2 linked regions of the Homo sapiens genome follow. The protein of the gene in region 1 interacts with the protein of each later gene in a pairwise test. Each region holds a gene or a part of one and is shown in the gene's direction. Other genes may lie near its edges. The genes, in order: GALNT6 and SLC5A6.

The links.
Region 2: the proteins of GALNT6 (region 1) and SLC5A6 interact in a two-hybrid assay, tested with the Homo sapiens proteins (one large-scale study listed by BioGRID and IntAct).

The regions. Positions count from the first base shown.
Region 1 is NC_000012.12:51,377,695-51,381,507, reverse strand, and holds part of GALNT6 (polypeptide N-acetylgalactosaminyltransferase 6), read left to right. Parts: intron 1-1,623; 5' UTR 1,624-1,726; coding exon 1,727-2,217; intron 2,218-3,813. UniProt on the Homo sapiens protein: Catalyzes the initial reaction in O-linked oligosaccharide biosynthesis, the transfer of an N-acetyl-D-galactosamine residue to a serine or threonine residue on the protein receptor. May participate in synthesis of oncofetal fibronectin.
Region 2 is NC_000002.12:27,198,973-27,202,467, reverse strand, and holds the end of SLC5A6 (sodium-dependent multivitamin transporter), read left to right. Parts: intron 1-393; coding exon 394-480; intron 481-620; coding exon 621-802; intron 803-1,014; coding exon 1,015-1,118; intron 1,119-1,354; coding exon 1,355-1,470; intron 1,471-1,888; coding exon 1,889-2,032; coding exon of another isoform or gene 2,033-2,078; 3' UTR 2,079-2,881; downstream 2,882-3,495. UniProt on the Homo sapiens protein: Sodium-dependent multivitamin transporter that mediates the electrogenic transport of pantothenate, biotin, lipoate and iodide.

The DNA.
Region 1 (3,813 bases):
AGAAGAGGAAGAACTGGAATTTGTGCCCAGGTCCCTTGCCATTGATGTCTAGTGCTTAACCAGTGAGCTTATGTGTCCAGAACTCTGCACAGAAAGTTCTGCAAGCATTCATCCTCTAGGGCATGGATCCACATGCCTGGGGGTGGAGCCTGGTGAACGCCCATGCCCAGCCCTGCCGGGAATGTCTTGTCATGAAATCTTAGGTTTCTGTTAAATTCTTTTTTATTAAATAGGAGTAGATTACAGATAACTTTTATTTATTTATTTTTAAAGACAGAATCTCTCTCTCGCCCATGCTGAAGAGCAATGGTGCGATTATAGCTCACTGCAGCCTTAACCTCCTGGGCTCCAGCAGTCCTCCTGCTTCAGCCTCCCAGGCAGCTAGGACTACAGGTGTGCACCACTACGCCTCGCTAATTTTTAAAATTTTTTATTGAGATGGGCTCTCAATACGTTGAGCAGACTGGTCTTGAACTCCTGGGCCCAAGCGATCCTCCCACCTCAGCCTCCCAAAGTGCTGGGATTACACCATGCTTGGCCAAGAAATATTTATAAAATACGTATAGGGTCTAAAGAATTACAGTCCACCAGCAGCCGCCATCCACTTTGAGAAAAAAACACTTTGAAGTCCCCCATTAACCATCTCTAATCCTGTACCGTTTTCTTCATCTTCAGAAACTGGTTATGTCATTTCTTTAGCTTTCTTTTTTTCGTGGGGAGACGGAGTCTTGCTCTGTTGCCCAGGCTGGAGTGCAGTGGCATGATCCTAGCCTACTGCAACCTCTGCCTCCCGGGTTCAAGTGACTCTCCTGCCTCAGCCTCCCAAGTAGCTGGGATTACAGGCATGCGCTACCACGCCCAGCTAATTTTTGTATTTTTAGTAGAGACAGGGTTTCACCATGTTGGCCAGGCTAGTCTTCTTTAGCTTTCTTTATAGCTTTATCACATATTTGTATTCAAGAACAAGATATTGTTTAATTTTAGCATGTTTTTACATTTTCTATAAGTGGAATCATACTGTATGTATCCTTTTGTCACTTGCTTTTTTCACCCAACAACACATCCACATTGTTGCATGGAGAAGTGGTTCATTCTTGGTCATCACTGTAGAGCACTGCACGGTATGGGTATTTTGCACTTTATTTATTCATTCTGCTAGTGGACTTAAAGGTTTTACCAGTTTGTTGCCATTTAAGTCAGTGTTGGCTTAAATGTTCTTGTACATACCTCTTGGTTTGCATCTACCAGAGTTTGTCTGGGATATAAAATGAGGAGTGGAATTGCTGGCTCAGGCTGTGTTCATTTCAAATTTTTCTTGATAATACCAAGTTGTTTCCCAAAGCCATAATGATTAAATCTCATGAGTTTAATGATTAAATCTCATGTAGTGTTTCAGTGTTCCAGTGACTCTAGATCCATGCATATTAGGATCTTAGGGCAGGAAAGAAACACTGCCTCCGGTCTCCTCATTTTATGGATGAAGGAAATGTAGATATGGGAAAGTTGTGGCCAATAAGGTGATGCCACCACTCAGCAACAGAGCCTGGCCTCGAACCCCAAGCACCCGACTCCCTCCTTACCCTGTGTTGGCTCACTTCTCTCTCTTGTCCCCTCCTTTCTCAGGCTGAGGCCCCAGCTTGTGGCCACCACAACGTATCAAGCTATCTCCAGGGTTGGGCTCAGGACTCAGAGCTGACGCAGCTGGGGTGCCCCTTGGTTCTGGAGGATGAGGCTCCTCCGCAGACGCCACATGCCCCTGCGCCTGGCCATGGTGGGCTGCGCCTTTGTGCTCTTCCTCTTCCTCCTGCATAGGGATGTGAGCAGCAGAGAGGAGGCCACAGAGAAGCCGTGGCTGAAGTCCCTGGTGAGCCGGAAGGATCACGTCCTGGACCTCATGCTGGAGGCCATGAACAACCTTAGAGATTCAATGCCCAAGCTCCAAATCAGGGCTCCAGAAGCCCAGCAGACTCTGTTCTCCATAAACCAGTCCTGCCTCCCTGGGTTCTATACCCCAGCTGAACTGAAGCCCTTCTGGGAACGGCCACCACAGGACCCCAATGCCCCTGGGGCAGATGGAAAAGCATTTCAGAAGAGCAAGTGGACCCCCCTGGAGACCCAGGAAAAGGAAGAAGGCTATAAGAAGCACTGTTTCAATGCCTTTGCCAGCGACCGGATCTCCCTGCAGAGGTCCCTGGGGCCAGACACCCGACCACCTGAGTAAGTAGCACCCAGAGTCCTTGTGGGGAGACCAGGGCTTTGCTAAAGGCATGGCTAGTATGGCCAGGGCCATAGATCAAGGGCCAGAGAAAGAGTTGAAGGGAATTTTATAATATGGGCAAGGATCTCCTCTATGCCTCACTTCTTTCCCAGAACAACTGTGCTGATCCCAGGGGTTGTGATTCAAGGGTATTATGGTCAGGCCAGAGGCCCAGGGAGACCTGTGAGAGTGAAATGCAATTATGAAAGTGAGATGATGTGGAAGAAGGAACTCAGCCTGGCACCAGGACCTGGCACGGGGTGACTGGGGAGACCTGATACCAAGCTGTGGTTTCAGTAGCTTTCTCCTCTACTGAGGCCTGCTCCAGAGACTGTGGGACTCTAATGCTGAGCTGTTTGGGGGGGGGGTGGGCATTTCTTAACAGCAACCCTGGTGGTTAGGAATATCCTCACACCTGGTTTCCTCCAGTGAAGGCCCACAAGGCCGGAATTGATTCCAACCTTTATCTGAAGTTGTTTATAGCCTCAATCTTGCACAATGAGATCTCACTTAGATCTTTGAGTGGCAGCCCCCTCCCTCTAACGCCCCCATGGCTGCATTCCCATGATCCTCAAGTTAAAGACAGTGTGTCTTCCCCACTTAGCCTTTGTCTTTTCCAGGTCAAGTGTTATACCCTATTTGGCCTTTTCTCAAATGGCAGCCCTCATCCCCAGATTTCGTGAGTCTTTAGGGCTGTGAACCTGAGGTTCTTGAGACTTGAGCCAAGTATGATAGCCCTAGAACAAGGGGCCACTTGAAGCTATCAGGAATTCCTCAGCAGAGAAGGGCACTGGGGCCAGGCACAGTGGCTCATGCCTATAATCCCAGCACTATGGAAGGCTGAGGTGGGTGGATCTCTTGAGGCCAGGAGTTCAAGACCAGCCTGGCCAACATGGTGAAAGCCTGTCTCTACTAAAAATACAAAAAAATTAGCCCGGCATGGTAGTGGGTGCCTGTAATCCCAGCTACTCAGAAGGCTGAAGGACAAGAATCGCTTGAACCTGGGAGGTGGAGGTTGCAGGGAGCTAAGATCATACCACTGCACTCCAGCCTGAGTGACAGAGCAAGACTCTGTCTCAAAAAAAACAGACAGAGAGAAGAGCACTGGGTGTGACAGCAGCCAGAGGAGGAAGACAGGGAATCTCTCTGGAGGGTCCCCAAGAAATCCTCTGACCAGCAGAGGAGGTCAAGGAAAGGGTGTGAGGTCACATGATTCCTTGAGATCCAGGATTCACACATTCCCACCCCAACCCTGAGATAGAGTGTCAAGAAGGTAGCAGCATGGCCAAGTGCCACAGAGTAGCTGGAGTGGATGAAGTTGGAAGAAAGGTTGCAGGAAATTGACTGTGATAGTGGTGTCAAATCACAGGGAGTTAATGAGAAAATGGATTAGAGAGGAACTGTACGCTGTAAAGGGAAGAGCCTTTTCTTCTCATTGAGTATGGAAATCATAGTCACTTTTCTCAGATGTCAAATTTGGCCTTTATTACCTACCCCTCTGGGACCTCTGGATTGGATTACATTTTATGCAGTTCACATATTACGGAGGAAGAGAG
Region 2 (3,495 bases), on another chromosome or scaffold:
CAGTGGCGCGATCTCAGTTGACTGCAACCTCCACCTCCCACATTCAAGTGATTCTCCTGTCTCAGCCTCCTAAGTAGCTGAGGGACTACAGGCATGTGCCACCGTGTCTGGCTAATTTTTGTATTTGTAGTAGAGACGGGGTTTTACCATGTTGGCCAGGCTAGTCTGGAGCTCCTGACCTCAGGTGATCCTCCCGCCTCGGCCTCCCAAACTGCTGGAATTACAGGCATGAGCCACCGCTCGGCCACCTCTGGAGTTCTGATTGTTCCCACAGAAGAGACAGATCTGACAAGTGGGGCTCCAAGGTCATGGCTGGTGGCTATGCTTTATGGTGAGTCTGGGCATCTCTGAGTCTGTGTTCTTTTTCCTTTTCTTCTCACCCTGTCCTCCTAGGCAGCAATCAGCATCTTTGGCATGGTTGGGGGACCGCTGCTGGGACTCTTCTGCCTTGGAATGTTCTTTCCATGTGCTAACCCTCCTGTGAGTGATGCATCTGGATCCACAGTCATGTGTAGCAGGATGGACCTGGGGGTTGGCAGGGCTGTCACCAGGAGAGCTGAGGACTGCCGTGAGGGCTGGCAGGACTGGCCTTGTGACAGGCCTGCACTGTGTCTCGGCAGGGTGCTGTTGTGGGCCTGTTGGCTGGGCTCGTCATGGCCTTCTGGATTGGCATCGGGAGCATCGTGACCAGCATGGGCTCCAGCATGCCACCCTCTCCCTCTAATGGGTCCAGCTTCTCCCTGCCCACCAATCTAACCGTTGCCACTGTGACCACACTGATGCCCTTGACTACCTTCTCCAAGTAAGGCAGGGCTTGCTATCTTCTTGTTTTCTCAAAGCCCTCCTTTGAGGGCTTTCACAGGGGTCTTGCTAAGGGATGGGCCACCAGAGGCCCCAGGGAAATGTTGGGTATTGGGTCCCAAGACCCTGGGACCATGCGGGCAAGTAGAGATTGGTGCCCAAGGAATGCCCTGCCAACGAATTGCTAATTGTTCTCACCTCTGCTCTTCCCAGGCCCACAGGGCTGCAGCGGTTCTATTCCTTGTCTTACTTATGGTACAGTGCTCACAACTCCACCACAGTGATTGTGGTGGGCCTGATTGTCAGTCTACTCACTGGTAAGGGTGTGGGATTGCGGTGCAGATGAGCACCGAGGGGTTAACAGAGGGCCCTAAGGGACTCTAGGGAGAAAGGCTCCTGCCCTCTGAGCTCTTGGGTGTCCGTAGCTGTCAGGCTTTTCTGCTGGGATGTAGGAGGTGGGTGGGGGCTGGGGTCTCTGGGGGCCAAGGGAGGACATGGGGCCCGCTGCTGTGGATGGTTCCACCCAGAGACTCAGAAGCACATTTCCATTCAGGGAGAATGCGAGGCCGGTCCCTGAACCCTGCAACCATTTACCCAGTGTTGCCAAAGCTCCTGTCCCTCCTTCCGTTGTCCTGTCAGAAGCGGCTCCACTGCAGGAGCTACGGCCAGGTAGTACCTGCTGTCCAAGTGACCCCTCCCTGCCCTTCTCCACAGATGCCACTGACTCTTCAGGTTCCCTTCTACCCCTTTTCTCTCCCCCTGCCCCGGGTGCCTCTCTCAGGATCAGCTAAGCCTAGGCTGTCCCACACGGCTGTCTCAGGTTCTACCCACAGGACTGCACTGGCTTGGTGGGCAGAAGGATCTCAGGGCTCAGAGGAGCTCAGCCCCAGCCTGGGCCAGTCAGCTCCCCTCCCCAGCCCACCCTGTGCTCCCTGCTGTGCTATGCCCTCCCTCTTTTCCCCCTGCTCTCCCTCCCGAACCCAGCCTTGCTGGGCTCCCTTCTGGCGGGGACCTTTTTTGTGTGAATCCTGTCAAGCACCCGTCATCCGTCTTCACCAGTTCCACCCCTTTGGCTCTGTGTTTGCAGGACCACCTCGACACTGGCCTGTTTCCTGAGAAGCCGAGGAATGGTGTGCTGGGGGACAGCAGAGACAAGGAGGCCATGGCCCTGGATGGCACAGCCTATCAGGGGAGCAGCTCCACCTGCATCCTCCAGGAGACCTCCCTGTGATGTTGACTCAGGACCCCGCCTCTGTCCTCACTGTGCCAGGCCATAGCCAGAGGCCACCCTGTAGTACAGGGATGAGTCTTGGTGTGTTCTGCAGGGACAGGCCTGGATGATCTAGCTCATACCAAAGGACCTTGTTCTGAGAGGTTCTTGCCTGCAGGAGAAGCTGTCACATCTCAAGCATGTGAGGCACCGTTTTTCTCGTCGCTTGCCAATCTGTTTTTTAAAGGATCAGGCTCGTAGGGAGCAGGATCATGCCAGAAATAGGGATGGAAGTGCATCCTCTGGGAAAAAGATAATGGCTTCTGATTCAACATAGCCATAGTCCTTTGAAGTAAGTGGCTAGAAACAGCACTCTGGTTATAATTGCCCCAGGGCCTGATTCAGGACTGACTCTCCACCATAAAACTGGAAGCTGCTTCCCCTGTAGTCCCCATTTCAGTACCAGTTCTGCCAGCCACAGTGAGCCCCTATTATTACTTTCAGATTGTCTGTGACACTCAAGCCCCTCTCATTTTTATCTGTCTACCTCCATTCTGAAGAGGGAGGTTTTGGTGTCCCTGGTCCTCTGGGAATAGAAGATCCATTTGTCTTTGTGTAGAGCAAGCACGTTTTCCACCTCACTGTCTCCATCCTCCACCTCTGAGATGGACACTTAAGAGACGGGGCAAATGTGGATCCAAGAAACCAGGGCCATGACCGGGTCCACTGTGGAGCAGCCATCTATCTACCTGACTCCTGAGCCAGGCTGCCGTGGTGTCATTTCTGTCATCCGTGCTCTGTTTCCTTTTGGAGTTTCTTCTCCACATTATCTTTGTTCCTGGGGAATAAAAACTACCATTGGACCTAGAATTTGGGCTCCTGTACTGTCTTCACCTGCTCTTGTCCACCCTACTGCATCCTCTGGTGAGGATAAGGAGTCCTATCCTATGTACAGGTCACCTTCCTGTGCTGAGGAGGGGGGCTGTGGCTTCAAGTCCCTGCTGTCCCTGTGTCTGCAGGGGACAGTGTTGTGCTCACCATGGTAGAAGATGCACACCCTCTCCTAGGGCTTCTCATCCCCTGGGGCTTACTTAGTCTGTCCCTTCTCCGGCCCCACTTTCCCTTTGCCAGAACCTTTTGCTCTCAGATTTTTACTTTTGGAACTGGAGGAAGAATGTTCCCATCTGATTTTAGAAACGGAACATTCTAGCTGGACTTTTATGGTCTTGTGAAGAACACTGTGCTCACACCCTCCCACACCTGGCCTCTGCCCCTGCCTGGCCCTGTTCAGCTGCCCACATCAGCTCTGCACCAGCTCTCCGGGGTCTCTTAACAGAGACCGGGTCCCAGGCATATCTGAATTCAGCCTCAACTGAGGCCTTCTCCCAGGGCTTCTAGAGCACATTCCAGCTGTTCTCTCATACTCCATGTAGCTTAGGCCTGGGATGTTCTGTGTCCCTTTTTCTACCTCTACCCCAGCTCAC